Homo sapiens: one gene and its partner. The protein of the gene in region 2 purifies or fractionates together with the protein of the main gene of each other region. This does not show direct contact. Each region holds a gene or a part of one and is shown on either strand. Other genes may lie near its edges.

Region 1 (2,579 bases), on a different chromosome or scaffold from region 2:
AGTGGCATGATCTCGGCTCACTGCAACCTCCCTCTCCCGGGCTCAAGCAATTCTCCTGCCTCAGCCTCCCAAGTAGTTGGGTTTACAGGCGTGTGCCACCACGCCTGGCTAATTGTTATATATTTTTTTAGTAGAGATGGGGTTTCACCATGTTGGCCAGGCTGGTCTTGAACTCCTGACCTCAGGTGATCCGCCCGCCTCGGCGGGCGGCCAAAGTGCTGGGATTACAGGCATGAGCCACCGCACCCGGCCAACCTGTGGCACTTTTAAAATAGATGCCTTACACTCAGGAATCTAGCTAAAAGCTCAAACCTATGCATATTCATGGTGGTGTTGGAGGTTGAATCAACTGTAGTGACGTGAATCATCTCTTTTCTCCCATTTACTCAATGATTAGCTTTCTTCTTATGGTGTAAGGCATTTATCATTGGCGTATTAAATAGTGTATAAGACACCCAAATCTAATGTTAACCCAATACTTTAATATGAACGTTATGATCAGTAGGTAGTATCTTAGATGATACATTTAATCACAGACAAAACAAAAACCTATCTGTATATGATATTAAGAGGAGCACAGAATTGGATAAAGTAGGGTTTATCTTAGTCGGAGACCAAATGGTTTTGATATGTGGTTCCTAGACCAGCAGCATCAGTAGCAACTGGAAATGTGAGATGAACATTCTGAAACACACATCTGGTCAAGAACCACTGTTTTAATAGCTTTAACCACAAAACATCCACATTGTTCCCTAAAGTTATGCTAAGAGTAAAACGAGTAACTGGTTAACTGCCCATGATACATCAATTTAATGGAAAATTATGCAACTGTCAACAAGAATAAGCATATCTATATGTATTGATATAAAACAATCTCTAATATAGTGTTAAGTGAAATAAGCAATATGCAGAACTTAAAAATACTTTTTAGCCGGGCACGGTGGCTCACGCCTGTAATCCCAGCACTGGGAAGCCAAGGCAGGCAGACTGCTTGAGCCCAGGAGTTCAAGACCAACCTGAATGACATGGTGAGACCCTGTCTCTATGAAAAACACAAAAACTAGCTGGGCATTGGTGGTGTGCGCCTGTAATCCTAGCTACTCAGGAGGCTGAGATGGGAGGATCACTTGGGCCCGGGAGGCGGAGGTTGCAGTGAGCCAAGATTACGCCACAGCACTCCAGCCTGGGCTAGAGTGAGACCCTGTCTCTAAATAAATAAATAAATCTAAAAAATTTAAAGGGGGCATGTGTCTGTATGTATGTATACTTTACACAGTAACAGAATATCTCTTAAAAAACATAAGAAATTAGTAGCTGAAGTTTCCTCCAGGAAGGGAAGCAGGAAGCAGATGACTGGATTATAGGGATGGAAGAAACATTTTTCCTTCTTTTTTTGAGACGGAGTCTCACTCTGTTGCCAGGCTGGAGTACAGTGGCGCGATCTAGGCTCACTGCAACCTCTGCCTCCCGGGTTCGACCGATTCTCCTGTCTCAGCCTCCCCAGTAGCTGGGACTAGGGGTGCGTGCCACCACGCCCAGCTAATTTTTGTATTTTTAGTAGAGACGGGGTTTTACCATGTTGGTCAGGATGGTCTCGCTCTCTTGACCTCGTGATCCGCCCGCCTCGGCCTCCCAAAGTGCTGGGATTACAGGTATGAGCCACCACACCCAGCTCTGGAAGAAATATTTTTCACTACATGTTTTTGTACTGTTTGCATGTTACATTAAGTGCATGTATTATTAATTCAGGTTAATTAATTTAAAAATTTAAGTTTAAGGGCAAAAAGAACCACTACTTTAGAGAGAATGGAGATACTAGCAAGTAAAATATATGAAAGAGCTAGTTGGAAAGGAAGCCAAGCATGGAGTAGAACGTGGGGCCGTCAGCTGCTAAAGGGTACTGAGCGTTAATGGAGGGCGGAGCAGGAAGAAAAGTCAGACCTGGCAAAAAGATCATCTTCCCTCCATATCCTTTCTGAGGTAATATTAGGTAAACTGAGACCTGGACCAGAGGGCTCAATTATATCCATAGTCACCTTTATTCTGAATTAACCATTTATCAAGAGTGCGCCTGAAAAGAGTAGAAAAAAATAAAGGAGCCCATCAAAAAAAAGTTCCCTGGCAAGTGGGAGGGAGGACATGATGTTAGGAGCCCTGTTTGGGGAAGGAAATGTTATCCAGGTCATGGATGCCATTTTTGTCAATGATTCGAACACTGAAGGTTGGCAGATTCAGGATGAAGCGTTTCTGGAGCTGCAGAGAGACATGGAGGAAATCAGTCAACAAATGATTACTAAGTTCTATGTGCCAGGCTCTGTTCTAGACACTGGGGATACAAGCAAACAAAAATCCCTGCTTTTGTGGAACTGATATTCTACTGGAGGCAGTTGGCAGTAGGGCACTAGTACTCTAGTGGTAGAGGGTACCCAAACAGCAGCTGGAGGATGACTGGGAGGCAGGGAGGCTGAACTGGGAGGTGCAACTAAGAGCCTGTCTCTGGTCAGTCAGCTGACGAAAGAATGAGACAATCCAGTGTTCTGTTCCCCATAGTCTGTTACCCATCAGTCTGGTAAACACAG
Region 2 (3,836 bases):
CCAAATTGAGCTTATTACCTGCAGCAGTGGTTCATAAAGTCAATCCAGCCAGAGGTTGGCTGGTTGAATGTAACTCATGTGGAAAGCTTGCTTTAAAAATAGATTTCTCTGTTCCACACAATATCAATTCACTAGGACCAGACATATTGGGATGTGACCCAGTAATCTATTATTTGAAAGGTCTCCAAGTGAGTGCAATATGAAGAAGACTTAGGGACCACTGAAGAATTTTCTGCCACTAGGTCTAAAAATTATTCGAAATTATAAAAAGCATTTAGTGCTAAACATAAAAAAGTTTTACGGAGAAACTGCAACTGTAAATGTCGCTTTGGTAGAATAACTACTGTCAAAACTAACTGAACAAAAATGCAATTATTTGAATTTTCTTCTCTTCTAATGTCCTAATAACAAGTTACTCGTCTCTAAGATTTTAACCTCCTCACCAGATTCAGAACTTAGTCATTAACTAGATGTGATGTCAATAACCCTCAGTGAAATTTGGAGAAATCAAAATGTTACAAATGAAACCTGCTTTCTGTAGAAATGATGGGGAAGAGGTAACTAAAGAGATGTAAGAACACCCAAGTCAGTCACGGTCATGAGGGTAAAGCATGACTTAACATAGCTGAAGTTATCTAAACTTCTTGTACTAAAACGTCTCAGGCTAACAACATCAAAATCAAAGTAAAACTCAAAGGATAAAGATATTAAAAATTGAGGTTTTTTGAAACTGGTAATAAAGATTTCAGAAATAAGTCAGGATACTGTTAGATGATCTTGGTGTCAATTTCCCTTCAGTAAGGTGTCATTTAGCAAAGTACATTTGCAGATAATTATGCTGACAAGCTTTTAAGACGTTACTCATCTGGCATCTTGGAGACTCCCTCTCCAGATAGTAACTGCCATTTCCCTGGTAAAGGAGACTTGAACAAATCCAAGTATTGATGACTGATATCCTCTCTGTAGTTTGTCTCAGAGAAAGAATATCAGGGTATTTTCTTGAGAGTATTTCGGCACAAATCTTACAAGACCAATTATAGTAAAATGGTTGATGCTCACATAATCATCAGTTGAACTGACTTGGACAAAGCTGAACTCTCTGAATTTTATTATGTCTTGTCTAGAGAAACAAGCTTGCATAGGATGTAGCAAAGTTTGTTTCTACATTGCTAACTCTATCTTAGGGAAAAGGCCCTGGCCAGTTAGTCTCGTTTACTTTGTAGACATAATTCTTTTTTTATTTTTACGGTATATTATTCGGTTGGCATTCTTTTAAGTCAGTCTCCTTGGGCCCTGATGAAATGACTGCAAAATTGAGAATCAAACCCTGAAGTCTGCTGACCACACATAGGTACTAGGAACCTTTCAGGCTACTAAGTGGTAAATTAGGGTTCTCTATGACATCCTTTCACTGCAATTTGCAACATCAATAGAATCACACAATAATGTTATAAATGACACCAGAGACTCAATTAATTGTTAAATTTCATGCCATGAACGTATTTATGCACATATAATTGAGCAATGGGGAAATCTGCTCCAGTAAGAAAACTGCAAGAGACATGATTTTTGGCAGTGAGCTTTCTAAACAATAAATTACAATGGAAGGATTTTCACAGGTGAATAAGGAGTTAATAGGAACAAACAAAGCCCCCATTTGTGGATTAAAAAAGAGGAACACAATTTCATAAGATTGTTAAGGGTTTACAAGCCTTAAAAATGTCCAGTGGATTGAAGAGGCAAGAGACAAGTTCAAATATATAAGCACTGCAACAATTAGCAGGTGGTTGTCAATGTGTGATTCAAGAATCTGATCACAGAGATAAAACTCCTAAATTATTATAGCCCCAAGTGCCAAAGTACTAGAAAATAATCAAAGTAAAAGAAAAGGATCATCTATTTATGAAATCCATTCTTGTAAAACTGCTGAACTAAAAAAATTTTTGCAGTGAAGAAAGGTGAAGGTGTTTTTCTTAACTGATAAAAAGTACTTACTGGTTGTGTAAAAAATATTCGTAAAACCTGTCTGAAAGTTCTCAGATGCCCAAAAAATTCCAAAAGCTGAAAAGAGAAATAAGAGATCATTTATTAATTCAAACAGTCCTATTTGCTAAACCCAAAAACCAAAGCTGAAATCCCATAACATCAAATCCTCATATTAACTTAATGTTCATTATATGTCACATCTAATCATTTTGTGCTGAGTATTTTATTCAATTTATAGATTTGAGCCATCTCAGCAAGCTGAAGTACATTTAAACACCTAGAGTAACAATTTGATCAAGACAAATACAACTATGTCAAAGTCAAAGCAATTTTATCTGATTCACCTGTTTTTAACATTTAGATTTTAAAGTTTCATAAAGTGATTATTAGGTTGAGGGGTGCAGGCATGGAGAGAACAGGACAAGATACTCTACTAGTTTAAGAATTATGTGTATGACAATGTTACTGTTGAGGATGGGTATGTTCTATTCCACTTGTTTTCCCTACTTAGATAATCCACGCTATGTGAAGGTCGACTCCCCTTCCCTCCAGTGAAACCTGAGGACCGCTGGATTAAGATAGTCTATTTCCGTTTCTCCATTTCTAAACAAATATAGAACCTGCTATTACTTCAAACTAGTGATATGAAGATAAACTATAAAACTGTTAAAAGAGGAAAACAGTAGTATGTATCAGTAATCATTAATGTGAATCATGCAGTGACAAGATTTGTAATGTTACCTACTTTTAATATGAGGTAGAGTAAAGCCAGCAGTATCCCAAGACTCCATCTAGTTACGTTACCAAACTCCCCATAGCTTATAAGGTAGCGAAACCAAACTGGTATGGGAACAAAAGTTCGGTAGTATTGACACAATTCTTCTAAAAGCATATACCAGTAACCCTAAAAAATAAGAAGAAAACAAATAGAGCTACCCAAACTACTTAACTACATAGCACAAACAATATTAGACTGAGAACACTGAGTATATTATACAATAATATAAATAACTATAAAATTAATCTTCATAATGATTATGACTGAACCTCAAGCTGGTTCTCACATATTACAGTCACTGAGTGGCCTGCTTTGAAAGAATTTCTAGGTTGGACGCAGTGGCTCCCAGCACTTTGGGATGGGCAGATCACCTGAGGTCAGGAGTTCGAGACCAGCTGGCCAACATGGTGAAACCCCGTCTCTACTAAAAATACAAAAATTAACTGGGTGTGGTGGTGGGCACCTGTAATCCCAGCTACTCAGGAGGCTGAGGCAGGAGAACTGCCTGAACCCAGGAGGCGGAGGTTGCAGTGAGCCAAGATCACACCACTGCACTCCAGCCTGGGCAACAGAGCGAGAGACAATCTCAAAACAAAACAAAACCAAAAAAAAAGATACAATGAGAATGTTTTATGTATACTGCAAGTAAAACCTATGTGAGTATGTTTTTGCTGATTATAAGAATTTAAAAGTTTTTAGTGCATATGGGAAACCACTGAATAATTGTACATAGTCAACTGTCAATTGATAATGCCCTGGAGAACAGAAGTACACATCTAAATAGTTTCCCACATATGATGTGGGGACTGATTTTAAAATTATTCTGAAGCAAATATAATTCTGATTTTATCCAAATAGGTTAATAATCAGGTTCAAGTGCCTGAACAAATGGTTGCTAAGCTGAAATAATACAGATAATTAAGCTAGTTAGCAAACTGAAAAACTGCAAAAGGAGGATTCATTTAAACAAAGACTAAATAGCATTAATGTGATTCGATAACATCACTCCAATAAAGCATAAGTGAGTTTCTTACCTTAGATTTAAAAGGCATGATGAAAGAAGGCACCAATA

The links.
Region 1: the proteins of RNFT1 (region 2) and PSMB2 purify together in Homo sapiens (affinity purification with mass spectrometry, with the first as the bait; one large-scale study listed by BioGRID). This does not show direct contact.

The regions. Positions count from the first base shown.
Region 1 is NC_000001.11:35,601,122-35,603,700, forward strand, and holds part of PSMB2 (proteasome subunit beta type-2), read right to left. Parts: intron 2,254-2,579; coding exon 2,146-2,253; 3' UTR 1-2,145. UniProt on the Homo sapiens protein: Non-catalytic component of the 20S core proteasome complex involved in the proteolytic degradation of most intracellular proteins. This complex plays numerous essential roles within the cell by associating with different regulatory particles.
Region 2 is NC_000017.11:59,954,493-59,958,328, forward strand, and holds part of RNFT1 (E3 ubiquitin-protein ligase RNFT1), read right to left. Parts: coding exon 3,799-3,836; intron 2,891-3,798; coding exon 2,732-2,890; intron 2,062-2,731; coding exon 1,996-2,061; intron 1-1,995. UniProt on the Homo sapiens protein: E3 ubiquitin-protein ligase that acts in the endoplasmic reticulum (ER)-associated degradation (ERAD) pathway, which targets misfolded proteins that accumulate in the endoplasmic reticulum (ER) for ubiquitination and subsequent proteasome-mediated degradation.